Regions from separate parts of the Homo sapiens genome. Here region 2 is linked to region 1. The links come from fine-mapping of genetic effects on gene expression. A gene starts in region 1. The other region holds a variant in brackets. All regions are shown on one strand. Distances are between the middles of the regions. Region 1 holds the start of GLE1 (GLE1 RNA export mediator). Region 2 has its middle 7.1 kb from the start of ODF2.

Region 1 (4,000 bases):
TCTGTCATCCAAGCTGGTGAGCAGTGGCACAATGATGGCTCACTACAGCCTCAGCCTCCTGGGTTTAAGCGATCTCCTGCCTCAGCCTTCTGAGTAGCTGGGAGCACAGGTGCATGCCACCATGCCTGGCTAATTTTTGGATTTTTTTTTTTTTTGGTAGAGGCAGGTCTCATCATGTTGTCCAGGTTGGTCTCAAACTCCTGGGCTCAAGCCATCCTCCTACCTTGGCCTCCCAAACTGCTGGGATTACAAGCATGAGCCACCATACCTGGCCTAGAATTCACCCTTTTAAAGTGTAAATATAGGCCAGGCGTGGTCACTCACACCTGTAATCCCAGCACTTTGGGAGGCCGAGGCGGGTGGATCACCTGAGGTCAGGAGTTCGAGACCAGCCTGGCCAACATGGTGAAACCCTGTCTCTACTAAAAATACAAAAATTAGCCGGGAGTGGTGGTGGACGCCTGTAGTCCCAGCTACTTGGTAGGTTGAGGCAGGAGAATCACTTGAACCCAGGAGGTGGAGGTTGCAGTGATCCAAGATCACGCCACTGCACTCCTGCCTGGGCAACACGGCGAGATTCTGTCTCGAAAAGATAAAGTGTATATATAATTCAATGGTTTGTAGTATATTCACCAAGTTGTGTAGCCATCACCATTATCTAATTCTAGACCTAGTTTTTTCTTTTTTCGAAATGGAGTCTCTCTCTGTCACCCAGGCTACAGTGCAGTGGCACCATCTCGGCTCACTGCAGCCTCTGCCTCCAGAGTTCAAGGGATCCTCCTGCATCAGCCTGTGGGGACTATAGGTGCATGGCACTTTGCCTGGCTAATTTTTGTATTTTTTGTAGAGACAGGGTTTTGCCATGTTGCCCAGGCTTGTCTGAAACTCCTGACCTCAGGTGATCTGCCCACCTTGGCCTTCCAAAGTGCTGGGATTACGGCACCCAGCCAACCAATTTCATCACTCCCAAAAAAGAAACGCCATACCCATTAGCAGTCACTCCCCATTCCCCTCCCCCAGCCCCTGGCAACTAGTCATAAAGTTTCTCTGGCTCTATAGATTTGTCTCTTCTGGATATTTCACATAAGTGGAATTGTCCAACATGTGGCCATTCATGACTGGCTTCTCTCAGCATAATGCTTTCAAGATTGATGTTGCAGCGTATCATCAGCACTTTATTTTTATGGCCCCATAACATTCCATTATATAGATGTGGTGTTTCCTCCTGCCAAACAGGGCTGGTTGGGATTCCAAAGAAGCACTATGGCCGGGCGCAGTGGCTCATGCCTGTAATCCCAACGCTTTGGGAGGTCGAGGTGGGTGGATCAACTGAGGTCAGGAGTTCGAGACCAGCCTGACCAACATGGTGAAACCCCGCCTCTGCTAAAAATACAAAATAGCTGGGCGTGGTGGCTGGCGCGTGTAGTCCCAGCTACACGGGGAGCTGAGGCAGGAGAATCGCTTGAACCCGGGAGGCGGAGGTTGCAGTGAGCCGAGATCGAGCCACTGTACTCCAGCCTGGGGGACAGAGCAAGACTCTGTCTCAAAAAAGCAGCATTAAACCCAAAACATTTATTAGGGAAGCTTACAGAGTGGGCTGCAGCAATTCTCGCGACAGACAGAGAGAAGCGGTGTTTCACCTAGGTACATCCCCAGCGAGGGGTCAGGGTATGAAGTTTATATGAGGGTTTATGGAATTTGGCTAAAAGCAGGGGTCAGTTTCAGCGTTTTGGGCAATAACCTAGATATCCTTAGTGCCTAGGGATATGCAAGGCCCGTGTTTGGTTGCAAGTCTGCAGGAAAAAACTTGCAGCTGGCTGGGTCACAGGGCGGTCAAGGCACTCTGATACTTGGTCAGTGCACAGAAAGCGGGGGAACTCGGGAACCGCGCACATAGTACTATATTTTATTTATCCATTCACCAATGGATGGACGTTTGGGTTGCTTTCACTTTTTGGCTATTATGAATAACACTGCTGTGAACATTCATGGACAAGTTTTTATATATACATAGGTTTCATTTCTTTGGCGTATTTTATATATATATATATATTTACCTAGGAGAATTGCTGGGTCAAATGGTAATTGTTTAACCTTTTGAGGAACTGCCAGACTGTCTTCCACAGCAGGTGCTTCATTTTACAGTCCCATGAGCAGTGTATGAGGGTTCCAGTTTCTGCACAGTCTCAAGGCACAGACAAATTTTCAGCAGCCCCGGGGATTGGGAGCGGTGGTTACCTCTGCGGAACGTGCCCCGACAGCCAAGCCCTGCGCGCAGGCGCACTGGTGGGAGGGCGGGAACGCGGGAGCGTCGCCGGAGGTGGGGCGTGCAGGCGTTAGGGGCGGGGCTGTGCTGCGCGCGCGTCCCGGAAGCAGAAGCCTGTGTGGCCTTCCCGGCGGCTGATTCGAGGGCTTGTTTGGTCAGAAGGGGGGCGTCAGAGAAGCTGCCCCTTAGCCAACCATGCCGTCTGAGGGTCGCTGCTGGGAGACCTTGAAGGCCCTACGCAGTTCCGACAAAGGTCGCCTTTGCTACTACCGCGACTGGCTGCTGCGGCGCGAGGTGAGCGGTGGCCCCGGAGGACGTAGGCCTTTCCGGCCCCTCGCGACCGAAACCTTCTCCCTAGCCGTTGGCACGTTCTGCTCCCGGGAACCCGTGCAGTCTAACAACCTGCATTTATTTCTTGACTTCTGTGTGTACATCCCTCTGTCCTGGGGTTTCTGTCCTCTTCAGCCTATTTTAGCGTTTCGGGGAGCTCCCCTGACTTCACAGGTGCCCCGCGCTCTGAAGGCTTCATTGCTACCCTCCGCCAGTTGGGCGCCTTCTCCGTTCTGCTGTTGTCAAAGCAATCTCGGCCCCAGGTTCAGTTAACTTACTGTATGTCTCATGTGCTGGGAGCTCTAGAGTTTGCGACGAACGATTGACACGACCTAATCCATTGCTACTAGTGAAATGACCAAATTTTTAGATTGATTTGGCAGACCTGGAAAGTGAATGGGGGCGTGGTCACCGTACCTAGCATTTGCAAAGCTCTGCGCGAGAAGTGGAGGGATGTGGAGAGTTAAGGCCGAGCTCCCATTCCCGAGTCGCTGCTAGTTAGCTACAGATAAGGCGTTGTCCTGCATCCTCAGACTTCTTGGGAAACAATCCTAAAGTATTTCCCTGTCTTTTATGTTGTTGACAGTTTTGAAAAATACAGACCTTACATTCTGTAGGTTGACTGCCAGCATATGTGCTTTCAAACCACCAGACCAAGGTTAAGCATTCTTGGCAGGAATACCACAGAAATGATGCCATGGCTTTCTCAGTAAGTCACATGAGGAGGCACACAGATGTCAACCCATCCCAACACTGGTGATGCTAATCTTGATCACCTGGTTACGTTATTATCTGCCTGGTCTCTCCGTTTAAAATTCGTCATTTTTCCCTTAGTAATTGTTGGGAAGTAATAATACCAGTATCCTTTTTTCTGGGCAAACCTTAATCCTCCATGGCTTTAGCATTCATTGATGTTTTCCACATGAATCGATACCTCTATGACGTTGCCAGATCCTGTTTCTTTATATCCGCTATTCCTTCTGCATTTGTTAGTTGGCATTCTACTGTAAGGAGGTGCTTTCTATTTTATTCAGTGAGTTGTAATCCATTACTTTTATTATTTATTTATTTTATTTTAAATGTCCCAGATTTTGTAAGCTTGTATCAAAATAATCACATGCAAGGCTAGGCGTGGTGGCTCAGGCCCGTAATCCCAGCACGTTGGGAGGCCGAGGGGGACGGATCACTTGAGGTCAAGAGTTCGCGACCAGCCTGGCCAACATGGTGAAACCGCATCTCTACTAAAAATACAAAATTAGCCGAGCATGGTGGTGCATGCCTGTAATCCCAGCTACTCGGGAGACTGAGGCATGAGAATTGCTTGAACCCTGGAAGCAGAGGTTGCAGTGAGCCGAGATTGTGCTGCTGCACTCAAGCCTGGGTGACAGAGTGAGACTGTGTCTC
Region 2 (4,522 bases), 55 kb before region 1:
CCTCCCTTTCTTTATCAAGAAGGATGCACAAGGGCCAGGCGCCCTGGCTCACTCTTGAAATGCCAGCACTTTGGGAGGCCAAGGCGGGCAGATCACTTGAGGTCAGAAGTTCAAGACCAGCCTGGCCAACATGGTGAAACCCCATCTCCACTAAAAATACAAAAATTAGCCAGACATGGTGGCACGCACATGTAATCCCAGCTACTTGGGAGGCTGAGACAGGAGAATCACTTGAACCTGGGAGGTGGAGGTTGCAGTGAGTTGAGATTGCGCCAATGCACTCCAGCCTGGGTGACAGAGCGAGACTCCATCTCAAACTAACTAAATAAATAAGTTAAAAATAGCCGAGTGTGGTGGTGTGCACCTGCAGTCCCAGCTACTTGGGAGGCTGAGGTGGGAGGATCATTTTAACCCAGGAGTTCAAGGCTGCAATGGGCTATGATCACAGCACTGCACTCCAGCCTAGGTGACAGAACGAGACACTGTAGCTAAATAAATACATGTGAAATGTGAGCTTGCTTCTATGAAAATAACTTTTTATGGCAGGTTTCATGTTTGAAACAGCTACACACAATTTCTGATAACTTTTTATCAGGAGAAATAGGCTTTGTAATGGTAGTCTCTTAAGAAATTCTTGATGGCTACTAATAGTGAGAACCTTTATTCACAGCTGCAGGTGATATAAAATTTGGACCTTTTTAGGCCAGGCGTGGTGGCTCATGCCTATAATCCCAGCACCTTGGGAGGCCAAGGTGGGCGGATCACCTGAGGTCGGGAGTTCGAGACCAGTCTGACCAACATGGAGAAACCCTGTCTCTACTAAAAATACAAAATTAGCTGAGCGTGGTGGCGCATGCCTGTAATACCAGCCACTTGGGAGGCTGAGGCAGGAGAATCGCTTGAACCTGGGAGGTGGTGGTTGCGGTGAGCTGAGATCGCACGCGCCATTGCACTCCAGCCTAGGCAACAAGAGCGAAACTCTGTCTCAAAAAGAAAAAAAAATTGGACTTTTTTTTTTTTCTTTTTGAGACAGTAACATTCTATCGCCCAGGCAGGAGTGCAGTGGCTTGATCACAGCTCACTGTAGCTTCCACCTCCCCAGTCTCAGGTGATCTTCCCACCTCAGCCTCCCAAGTAGCTGGGACCACAGGCACACACTGTGACGGCTGGGTTTTTTATTTTATTTTTTTGTAGAGACGAAGTCTCATTATGCTGCCTAGACTGGTCTTGAACTCCTGGGCTCAAGTGATCTGCCCTCCTTGGCTCTCAAAGTGCTAAGATTATAGGTGTGTGCCACCACATCCAGCCTGAAATGATTTTTTAATCTCTTTCCTTTCCTTTTTTTTTCTTTTTTGAGACAGAATCTCTCTCTGTCACCCAGGCTGGAGTGCAGTGGTGCCATCTAGGCTTACTGCAACTTCTGCCTCCTGGATTCAAGAGATTCTCCTGCCTCAGCCTCCTGAGTAGCTGGGATTACAGGCATGTGCCACCATGCTCAGCTAATTTTTGTATTTTTTTTAGTAGAGATGGAGGTTTCACCATGTTGGCCAGGCTGGTCTTGAACTCCTGAACTCAAGTGATCTGCCCTCCTTGACCTCCCAAAGTGCTGGGATTACAGGCCTGAGCCACTGTGCCCAGCCTCTTTTCTTTCTTAAGCTGTGTCCTGGCTATGTTAGTGTTTATTTTATTATAATCCTTAAACTAAACTTATACATTCTGTTATGGGTTGAATTGCATCCTCCCTGAATTCATGTGTTGAAGTTCTTACCCCCAGTACCTCAGAATGTGACCTTATTTTGTTTTGTTTTGTTTTTTTGAGACAAAGTCTAGCTCTATTGCCCAGGCTGGAGTGCAGTGGCACGATCTCAGCTCACTGCAACCTCCACCTCCTGGTTCAAGCAATTCTCCTGCCTCAGCCTCCTCGAGTAGCTGGGACTACAGGTTCATGCCACCATGCCTGGCTAATTTTTGTATTTTTAGTAGAGACGGGGTTTCGCCATATTGGCCAGGCTGGTCTTGAACTCCTGACCTCATGA[T/A]CTGCCCGCCTCCACCTCCCAAAGTGCTGGGATTACAGGCATGAGCCACTGCACCCAGCTGCTCATTTGGATATAGGGTCATCGTAAATGTAATCCGTTAAGATGGGGCCCTGCTGAAGTAGAGTGGGTCCCTAATCCAGTATATCTGATGTCCTTACAAAAAGGGGAAATTTGGACACAAGCACACACACAGAACACCAGATGGAGGTTGGAGTTATGCTGCCAAGGAACCACCAGAAGTTAGAACAAGGTTGGGAATACATCCTTCCCTGGAACCTTCAGAAGGAGCACAGCCCTGCAGACACCTTGATCTTGAACTCCAGCCTCCAGAACTGCCAGACAATACATTTCCTTTTTTTTTTTTTTTCTTTCTGAGAGAGAGTCTTGCTCTGTCACCCAGGCTGGAGTACAGTGATGCCATTTCAGCTCATTGTAACCTCCGCCTCCCAGGTTCTAGCAATTCGCCTATCTACCTTGGGTGAAAAAGCCAGACCCTGTCTCAAACAAAACAAAACAAAACAAAAATCTCTTAGAATTGAGAGACTTTCAGTTTTCTACATGCAGGGATAGTTTGTCTAGCAGAGGGCATATTCGTTGCTTGTAAGACTGGCAAAATCCCTCCTGTTGTTTATAACACAGTAAACACTGGGTGAGTTTATGCATTCTCAGAAACTGTTGGTTGGGGCTCCAACACAGAAAGACAGCTGTACCTGTGCCATGTTAAATCAGAGAAAAAGGTTGTTGAATAGTAAGTGTAATATGAGTTGATTTAAGTGAAAAATATTTTCATTTGCCTTGAAAAGTCTGTAAGGTACACATTAAAAGGTCAACAGCAGTAAATAGGCCAGCGCAGTGGCTCATGTCTGTAATCCTAGCACTTTGGGAGACTGAAGCAGGAGGATCACATGAGCTCAGGAGTTCGTGACCAGCCTGGGCAACATAGCAAGACCCCATCTCTAATTAATAAATAATAATAACAATAAAACAGCAGTTAACATATATTAAAAAAAAAAAAAAAAAAAGAAACTGTTGGTTGGATATAAACTGGCCTAACCCTTTTGACAAGATTTCCTGTCTTTTTTTTTGTTTGAAACAGAGTGTCACTCTTTTGCCTAGGCTAGAGTGCAGTGGTGATCTTGGATCACTGCAACCTCTACCTCCTGCATTCAAGCAATTCTCATGCTTCAGCCTCCCCAGTAGCTGAGATCACAGGTGTGTGCCACCACACCCAGCTAATTTTTGTATTTCTAGGAGAGACAGAGTTTCACCATGTTGGCCAGGCTGGTCTGAAACTTCTGGCCTCAAGTGATCCTCCCACCTAGGCCTCCCAAAGTATTAGGATTACAGGCGTGAGTCACCATGCCTGGCTCCTACAGTTTATGTTTTAGCATACATAGGATCATATGGTATGTCTTGGGGATCTTCTCCTATTATTACTTATGGATGTACCTAATGCGTTTAAACTGGTATACAGATAACATAGATGTACTATGTTAATTGATTCCTCTGTTGATGCATATTTAGGTTGCTCCCAAATTTTTAACATTACTTTTAGACCCAAAAGTCTAAAAGTTTTAGAAGTTTTTTTTTTTTTTTTTTTTTTTGAGATGAGGTCTCACTCTGTTACCCAGGCTGGAGCACAGTGGCACGATCACTACTCACTGCAGCCTCAACCTCCCCAGGCTCAGGTGATCCTTCTAACTCAGCCTCCCAAATAGCTGGGACTACAGGTTAGTGTCACCACGTCTAGCTAAGTTTTGTATTTTTTTTTTTTTGAGACAGAGTCTTGCTCTGTTGCCCAGGCTGAAGTGCAGTGGCGCAATCTCGGCTTGCTGCAAGCTCTGCCTCCCAGGTTCATACCATTCTCTTGCCTCAGCCTCCCGAGTAGCTGGGACTACAGGTGCCCACCACCACAACCAGCTAATTTTTTTGTATTTTTAGTAGAGACGGTGTTTCACCGTGTTAGCCAGGATGGTCTCGATCTCCTGACTTCGTGATCTGCCCGCCTCAGCCTCCCAAAGTGCTGAGATTACAGGCGTGAGCCACCGGACCCAGCTTTAAGTTTTGTATTTTTTGTAGAGACACAATGTTGCCCAGGCTGGTCTTGAACTCCTGGGCTCAAGCCCAGCTCAGTCTCCCAAAGTGCTAGGATTACAGGCATGAGCCACACTGTGCCTGGCTCCCCAAAAGAAGTCTTTAAAGTTTATTTGATCCTTGATTGGACTTCTAAAGTGAAACTCTCAGAGCATCTATTTTGTGCTGGATTCTGTGGGACATGAAGAAGTGGCCCTTGCCTTAAGAGAGCACCCAGTAGGAGGTGGCACAAGATTTCCGTACACACACGAGTGCTTACAGCAGGGATATTGGGACCCATACCCAGGAGGGAGCCATCAGTGCATCCTGAGAAGTGGGAGCCACCGCAGGCCTCATGGAGGAGGGAGCATCTGAACTTGGCCTGGAGGGTTCCCACAGTTGCAGGGGCTGGA

Evidence for each region. PIP is the estimated chance that this variant, and not a neighbour inherited with it, causes the effect.
Region 2: its variant is fine-mapped to the expression of GLE1 in whole blood (INTERVAL, PIP 0.97).

What each region holds. Positions count from the first base shown.
Region 1 is chr9:128,502,345-128,506,344 of GRCh38, forward strand. It overlaps GLE1 (GLE1 RNA export mediator), which reads left to right and starts at 2,375. Exons shown (of 16, transcript NM_001003722.2): 1 at 2,375-2,560. The coding sequence starts at 2,462. RefSeq lists a silencer at 2,186-2,395 and an enhancer at 2,616-2,775.
Region 2 is chr9:128,446,601-128,451,122 of GRCh38, forward strand. It overlaps the pseudogene LOC100129352. Among named protein-coding and RNA genes, the nearest start is that of ODF2, 7.1 kb to the right of the region's middle. The variant T/A (reference allele first, on the strand shown) is at 2,037.